Regions from separate parts of the Homo sapiens genome. Here region 1 is linked to region 2. Evidence: fine-mapped expression QTL. A gene starts in region 2. The other region holds a variant in brackets. All regions are shown on one strand. Distances are between the middles of the regions.

The links. PIP is the estimated chance that this variant, and not a neighbour inherited with it, causes the effect. A credible set is the group of variants that fine-mapping cannot tell apart.
Region 1: its variant is the best candidate, but not a certain one, in a credible set for the expression of LINC02386 in sun-exposed skin (GTEx, PIP 0.75).

The regions. Positions count from the first base shown.
Region 1 is chr12:30,258,042-30,262,432 of GRCh38, forward strand. All of the region lies in intron 2 of LINC02386 (long intergenic non-protein coding RNA 2386), which reads right to left. Among named protein-coding and RNA genes, the nearest start is that of LINC02386, 36 kb to the right of the region's middle. The variant C/G (reference allele first, on the strand shown) is at 1,917.
Region 2 is chr12:30,294,470-30,298,860 of GRCh38, forward strand. LINC02386 (long intergenic non-protein coding RNA 2386) reads right to left here and starts at 2,238. Exons shown (of 5, transcript NR_183469.1): 1 at 2,149-2,238.

The DNA of each region.
Region 1 (4,391 bases), 36 kb before region 2:
AGGAAACCAGTGCCTTGAATGGAAGGACCCAGTCCTAGCAGAATTCATCATCTGCTGACAAAAGAGCCTGGGGGCTCTAAATAATTCGCAGTGATGCCCAGGTAGTATACTGCAGGCTTTGCATAAGACTCTAAGACATGCTGGCTTCAGGTGCGACCCAACACATTTCCAGCTGTGGTGGCTATGGTGAGAGACTTATTCTGTTGAGAAAACAGGGAAAGTAAAAGGGACTTTGTCTCACACCTTAGGTGTCAGGTTGGCCACAGTAGGGTACAGCACCAAGCAGGATCTTGGGTCCCTGATTACAGGCTTTGGGCCTCGGATGTTATTTCTGGACATGCCTTGGGCCAGAGGGGAGCCCAATGTCTTGAAAGGTTAGTCCCAGATCTGGCAGCATTCACCACCAGCTGACTAATGAGCCCTTGGGCCTTAAGTGAACATCAGCAGTAGCTGGGCAGTACTCCCAGTGGCTCTTTGTTAGTGGTGGCCTGTGGCAAGAGGCTCCTTTGCCTGTGGAAAGGGAAAAGACCTTTGTCTTGTGGTTTGAGTGCCAGCTTAGCAGAAGTAGAATAGAGAACCAGGTAGATTTCTAAGATTTTTACTCCAGTCCCTGGCTTCTAGATGGCATCTCTGGACTTACCTGGGGCCCTGAGGAACTTGCTGGTCTGAAGTGAAGTACACAAACCTGGCTGGAATCACCATCTGTTGATTGTAGAGCCCTGGGGCCTTGATCAAACATAAGTGGTAGCCAGGCAGTGGTTACTGTGGGCCTTGGGTGAGACTCAGTGCTATGCTGGTTTTGGGTCTGACCAAGAACAGTCCCAGTTGTGGTGACCACAGGGGAGCTTGTGTCACCTCTCCTCCAGCTCTAGGTGGCTCAGTACAAAGAGAGAGAGAGAGAGACTCCATTTGTTTGGGAGAAAGTAAGGGAAGAGAACAAGAGTCTCTGCCTGGTAATCCAGAGAATTCTTCTGGCTCTTATCCAAGTCCACCAAGGCCACACCTCTAGGAGTCTGCAAGAAGCACGGCAACACTAGACTTGAGATACCTCCTAATGCAGATATAGCTGAGATCACAGCACCCAAATCCATTTGAATATCTGAAAAGCCTTCCCAAGAAGGATGAGTACAAAGAAGCCCAGATTGCAAAGACTATAATAAATACATAACTCTTTAATGCCCAGACACTGACACATATCCACAAACATCAACATGACCAAAGAAAACACAGCCTTACCAAATGAATTCAATAAGGCACCAGAGACAAATCCTGGAGAAACAGAGACATGTAACCTCTCAGACAATTCGAAATAGCTGTTTTGAGGAAACTCAAAGAAATTCAAGATAACACAGAAAAGGAATTCAGAATCCTATCAGATAATTTTAACAAAGAGATTGAAATAATAAAAAAGAATAAAGCAGAAATTATGGAGTGGAAAAATGCAATTGACATACTGAAGAATGCATCAGAGTCTCTTAATGGCAGAATTGATCAAGCAGAAGAAAGAATTGGTGAGCTCGATGGCAGTCTATTTGAAAATACAGTTAGAGGAGACAAACGAAAAAGGAATAAAAAGGAATGATGCACACCTACAAGATGTAAAAAATAGCCTCAAGGGAGGCAAGGGAGGCAAATCCAAGAGTTATTGACCTTAAAGAAGAGGTAGAGAAAGAGATAAGGGTAGACAGTTTATTCAAAGAGATAATAACAGAGAACTTCCCAAACCCAGTACAAGAAGGCTATAAAACACCAAGCAGATTTAACCCAAAGACTACCTCTAGGCATTCAATAATCAAACTCCCAAAGATCAAGGATAAAGAAAGGATTCCAAAAGCAGGAAGAGAAAATAAACAAATAACATAAATAACATACAATGGAGCTTCAACACATCTGGCAGAAAATTTTTCAGTGAAAAC[C/G]TTGCAGGCCAGAAGAGAGTGGCATTGAATATTTAAAGTGCTGAAGATAAAACACTTTTACTCTAGAATACCATATCCAGTGAAAATATCCTTCAAACATAAAGGAGAAATAATGACTTTCCCAGACAAAGAAAAGCTGAGGGATTTCCTCAACACCAATCCTGACTTACAAAAAATATTAAAGGGAGTTTGTCAATCTGAAAGAAAAGGACATTAGTAAGCAACAAGAAATCACCTGAAGATTCAAAACTCACTGATAATAGTAAGTACACAGAAAAACACAGAATATTATAACACTGTAATTGTTGTGTATAAGCTACTCTTAAGTAGAAAGACTAAATGATGAACCAATAAAAATAATAACTACGACAACTTTTCAAGACATAATAAAATAGCATATAAATATAACCATGCACAGTGGCTCACACCTGTAATCCCAGCATTTTGAGAGGCTGAGACAGGAGAATTGCTTGAGTTCAGGAGTTGGAGACCAGCATGGGCAACATAGTGAAACCTCATCAAAAAAAAGTAAAAAATTAAAAACAAAATTTCAAATATATGAAAAGAAACAACAATAAGTTAAAAAGCAGAGGATGAAGTTAAAGTGAAGCATTTTGTTTTCTTTTTGCTTGTCTGTTTATGAAATCAGTGTTAACTTGTCATCAGTTTAAAATAATGAGTTATAAAAGAGTATTTGCAAGCCTCATGGTAACCTCAAATCAAAAAACAACAGATAAAAAATAATAAAAAGGAAGAAATTAAAACATACCACCACAGAAAATTACCTTCACTAAAAGGAAGACAGGAAGGAAGGAAAGGAGGAAGAAAAGATTACACACACACACACACACACACACACACACACACACACAAAACAGAAAACAAATAGCATAATGAATGACAAGAGTAGGTCCTTACTTATCAATAATAACATTGGATGTAAATGGACTAAACTCTTCAATAAAATACATAAAGTGGCTGAATGGATTAAAAAAAAGACCCAACAATATGTTGCCTACAAGAAAAACACTTCACCTGTAAAGATACACATAGACTGAAAATAATGAGATGGAAAAAGGTATTTCATGCCAATTAAACCAAAAAAGAGTAGGAGTAGCTATACCTATATAAGACAAAATAGATTTCAAGACAAAAACTACATGAAGAGGCAAAGAAAGTCACTATATAATGATAAAGGGGTCAACTCAGCAAGAGGATATAACAATTGTAAACACATATGCACCCAACTGGAGCATCCAGATATATAAAGCAGATATTGGTTGAGCTAAAGAGAGAGAGAGACCCCAGTAAAATAATAGCTAGAGAGAGACTTCAACTCCCAACCATCAGCACTGGACATGTCTCCCAGACAGAAAATCAAAAAAGAAATACTGGACTTAATCTGCACTATAGAACAAATGGGCCTAATATATATTTACAAAACATTTCATCAAACAGCTACAGATTACATTTTCTTTTCCGCAGCACATGGATCATTCTCAAAAATAGACCACATATTATATCATAAAAAAGTGTTAAAACATTCAAAAACTGAAATAATATCAAGCATATTATCTGATGACAGTGTAATAAAACTAGAAATCAATAACGAGAAGAATTTTGGAAACTACACAAATGCATGGAAATTAAATAATATGCTCCTGAATGACTAGTAGGTCAATGAAGAAATTAAGAAGGGAATTGAAAAATGTATTAAAACAAATGATAATGGAAACACAACATACCAAAACCTATGGGATACAGCAAAAACAGTACCAAGAGGGAACTTTATAGCTATAAGTGCCTACATCAAAAAAAGAAGAAAAACTTCAAGTAAACAACCTAACAAAGCATCCTAAAGAACTAGGAAAGCAAGAGCATACCAAACCAATAATCGGTAGAAGGAAAGAAATAATAAAGATCAGAACAGAAATGAATAAAATTGAAACAAAATGATACAAAGATCAACGAAACAGAAAAGCTTTTTTTTGAAATGTAAACAACATTGACAAATCTTTAGTCAGACTAGTTAAGAAAAAAAAAACAAAAAAATCAGAGATGAGAAAGGAGACATTAAAACCAATGTCACACAAATCAAAGGATCATTTGAGGCTACTATGAGCAACTATATGCCAATAAAATGGAAAATCTAGAAGAAATGGATCACTTGCTAGATACATATGACCTACCAGATTGAACCAGGAAGAAATCCAAAACCTGAACAGACCAGTAACAAATAATGAGAACAAAGCCATAATAAAATGTCTCCCAGCAAACAAACAAACAAAAAAAAGCCTAGGTCCCAATGACTTTACTGCTGAGTTTTACCAGACATTTAATGAAGAACTAATACCAATCCTACTCAAACTCTTCTGAAAAATAGAGGAATAAAGAATATTTCTGCAACTCATTCTATGAGGCCATTAATTTTCTGATATTGAAACCAGACAAGGATACAGCAAAAAAAAAAAAAAA
Region 2 (4,391 bases):
AAAGCAGGTGAGAGATTTATTCCACAACTGGTTCATTTTGTTCGCCTGCTGTGTCACACACTGTGCTAGTCACACTGGTGACAAACAAGGCAGACAGTACTCCTGAGCTTTGCTCCTGAGCTTTCTTCTGGCCACGGATATGGGGCGGTGGGGAGTCAGGAAGTAACCAAACAGATACATCAACAAGATCACCAGTGGATGGCGAGCTAGAGAGGAACCCAAGAAGCAAGGGAAATCTTGTGAGCCATTGTCTGAAAGATCTGGAGTCTGAGTTGTTGAGCTCCTTCTGTTTTCAGCTCTTTAGTATGTGAAGAATGATTCTCTGGAACCTATCCAGTCTTCATTCGATACCACCCTGAAAAAGTTGTCTCAGATATTAGCGCTCAGTTTACCCTACTTTCTGGCTGAGTTGGATGAGCAGTAGCCTTGTCAAAGCCTCTGGATCAAAGCCCTGGAAAGAAAAAGCACCACTTTTTAAGGTTGTCGAAAAGAAAAAAAAAATCTGGAATTGGCTACGAGACCTTCAAAACTTACTGCACCACTGGCACAATAGGAGGGTGAACATGAACAATGCTCCTCCTTCTGAAAAATAAGGAAGGTATGAACAAGGTCAACCATAAAAGGCACAAGGACCACAACATCTACCTGAAGAAGCTGGGTCTGTCTACAAACCAGTGGTGTGTCACTGTGAATATTTGGAGCTGGCGAAATGACCAGATCCCCAGAACCACTGGACACCCGGAGTGCTACTCCAGGCTCTGGAGGCCAATCTGCCCTCAGTGTTTATGGAACCCTGAGGTTTGTTGGTCTCCTAGTTTCAGAAATATCCTTACGATAAATCCCAACTGCTGAAGGTAACGCTGTGAGAGGGTCTCTGTGGTCCTGAGAGATCCTGACTGATACACAGGCTCTAAATGTGTAGGGGTCTGCAAACGACAGGTCAGGGAGGGCTGGAAGCAGGGTGAGCCACTACACTCCCACTTTTGACTTTTTTTCACTCCAGCCTGCCCTTCTCATTCCTGCCAAAATTACAGATTGCACCAGCCCAGAAGGAAGCCCTGAATTAAGGATTTGGGTCTCCATCCAATTTCAAAGTGCAGTCACTGAAACAGGTACTTCCGTCACTACCACTTGCTTCTCCATGAAGCAGAACAGTTCCTTCTGCTCCCCAAGCCCAGCTCCACTTGCTTCCAGTCTGCAGGAACTCAAGACATGGATCATCATCTCTTCCCTTTCAACTCCCAGGTTCTGCCAAGCATGGCCCTGATGGAAAGCCACGGCAGTGGAGTGGGAGTTGTCTCTTTTAACCAATCCTTTTCAGTAGCAGGTTTGAACTTACATCTTAAAAAACTCAAAAATATTTATTTTAGAAAGCAGGCTCCATGTCCCAAAGCCTGTGGCAAGTGGGAACTTAAGGTCCCTTGAAATCATCCAAGTGTGGAAGTGGTGATTTAGAGCTAAAGCAATGATCTAAATTCTCCAGGCTGAAGTTGAGCTGAAAGAGGGCCTCAGTTCTCTCCTTCTATCCCTGGGCCTTCTTCCCAAGCCACCCCTAGACACCCTGTCCACAGAAGCCGTGGTTTGTGACGGCACCTCACTCCTGCATTCTGAAAGATGCCATTTCACAATGGTTGCTCCCTTTACAACTGTCTCATGGCCCCCAACCGAACAAACTCCAGCGGACAGATTCATGCCAGCAACAGGTTCACAGCAGACTGTGGAGGTATAGAGCACATGAATCTCCCACTTACTGAGAAAAAAAGTGACAGAGAGCCTAGGGAAAGGAAACAGGGACCCACTCCCTGCTCCCTATTCCCCCCATCCCAGCCCCTCCCATCCATCCCCATTCCTTCCACCTGAGATCAGTGCTGAGCCCCCTAAGAAGCTCATTGAGTCTTTTGGAAATATAACAAAAGTGAGTACAATTGGTGCAATTGCAATGAGCCCCAGATGCCCAGGTCTGACATCCTCTGAATCACCCCCTCTCAAGGGTCTTCCAGGCAGCTGTCCTCACTCTGGCTTAAGTAAATTAAGTTAGATTTTGTGCCTTGCCTCTTGCTTTTAAGTTGACACTGACGCGAATAAATGGCCCATGAGAGGGTTTCCTAAGAGAGGAAGGAGGCTGTCTCAGAAGCAGGAGGAACTCACGTCTGCCGAGGACACAGTTATATCCAGTGAGGTCGGGGGCGGGCTGTTGACAGCTTCCATTAATTCCACTGGGACAGGCAAGCATCAACTGGCAGTTATTGGAGCTGAGGATGCTGGGATAGATTGTAAAGTGAACAGCTGGCCCTTCGATTGTAAGCCTAGCTTAAGGAAACAGAACTGCAGGGAGAGAGGAAAGAGCAGATTTTCATAAGATCTCTTGTTAGGCTTTGGTTTCCATATCCTTCCCCACAGCTTCAGCCCAAGCGCCCAGCAGCCCACCTGTTTGTCTTTTCCCAACTCCGCAAAGGTAGAGGCTCCTGTTGGTAAAGCGACAGCTGAGAAGTGGGAAAGATAAAGGTTACAAACACTGCCCCAGATAATCCACAAAAAGCTTTGCTGGAATCAGGTTATGCATCTCTGAATCTGAGCTAGATTTATTGGGTCAGGGACCATGCTTGCTTATTGGCTCAAGAACTGACTGAGGAGGTGTCTTAAGAAATGCTTGCTGGATGGATAAATAAACAGCTGAGTGTTTATCTGAGCCTGGAAACTGCCTGCACCAGCACAAAAGTAAAGCCCCAACACCCTTAGGCCACACCTGCTGGAAGGCTTCCTATCTGTCAGCCCCAAGAAGATGTAGGCAAGATGAGGCAAGTTCTGACCAACAAAGGAAACTGCCGTCCTTCTTTCCTGGCCTTTCTTCCACTGTGATGCCAAAAATCCCATCAAGTCCAGTTACCCAGACAGTGGGATGTAAGAGGAGTTTCCTGGAAATCTGGCTCTACCATTGCCCCCATGAGTATAATGGTGACAAGCTTGGGCCCTGAAATCAGAAAGCCCGAAGTTTGAAATCTCAGACTTCTTACTTGCTAGCTGTGAGACTTTGAGCAAATTACTCAATGTTTCTAAACCTTGATTTCCTCAATGGGTAAAATGGGGATAATATTGGGTAACACACTAACCACAATGTCAAGAATAGAGTTAGTGCTCAATAAACGTTTATCTCTATTCCCGTACACCCCATCCTGCTAATTCCCTTCTTTCTCTTCTTCCCCATAACTTCCAATAGCATCATTACCTATGAACAGAGGGTAGAATAATCACAAAACTGGAAAGTTTGGGACAGCCTAAAAGTTATTTACAAGTCTAAGAGCAACCACTGAGTCCTGCCCAATGGCCTGGCTTTTTAAAAAACACCTAATTAGGAGCCAGTGAGGTCCCTAAGCCCACACAATTTCCTAGAAATGACAGGGTATGTATTTACAAAATAACTCTTTACCCTTTAAAAGAGCACAAGTATTTTCTGCTCCCATGATATCTCAAGTGGCACCTAGATTGCTGAAGTTCTGTTATCCAATGAGTAGTGTCACTCAGAGAGGTGGTATGAGTGATTTAGAGTCTAGGTCTCTGAACTGGGATGAGCCATTTCTTCATGTCTTGGTCTCCAATGCATAAAATGAAGAGATTGGAGCAGATGATCACTAGAGAACCTTCCAATGTTAAGACTTAAAGTTTAAATGGTTTTATGATAGGGAGGGATTGTAGAAAAGTAAAACCCACAAAACTTAACCTCCCAGGAGGAAAATTAAAATATTTTAATTGGAAGTAAATGATAACGTGGCACAGTTTGATGTGAATGTAATGGCATAAGGAGGTCGGAGGTCCTGGGTGCCCTCTCACACTCATTCTCAGCACCAGATGTGGGGGCACCTGGAACAGCCTGTAGGGAGGCTAATAAATTCCACCCTCACTCCAGCTCTGAAGAAACCTCCATGGTAGAAAAAAACCAAAGAGCCCCTGAGTCTCTCTACTGCTTCAATGGCTACTCCTACTTTGGAAAGCAGAGAAGGAGGAAGACCCCAACATCTTCCATCAGTGCTGAAGACACCACCCAATCCCTCCACACCTCTGCTTCAGCTCTTACCTGTGCCCCCACCCCCACACAGCCCTCTGCTAGCCACTAGGTGTTAGCTGTCTTTCACCTGCAAAAGGTCTCCCTTTGCCAATTTTTGTCACAAATTTTTGCATATTGCTTCTATACATTTGCAGATAGGATTCAGTAGGCACTGATTCCAACTATGTAAGAGAAAATGGAATGGCTGCACTTGCTGTCACAGAAGGCTTTCAGGAGAGCACATTGATTGGCTAAAGGGTCCTGGGAGAGGTACTCTAACTATGTTAGACTGAGATGCTCAGAAAGGAGCTTCCCCACAATCAAGGAAATCAGGGCTTTTCAGTGTTGA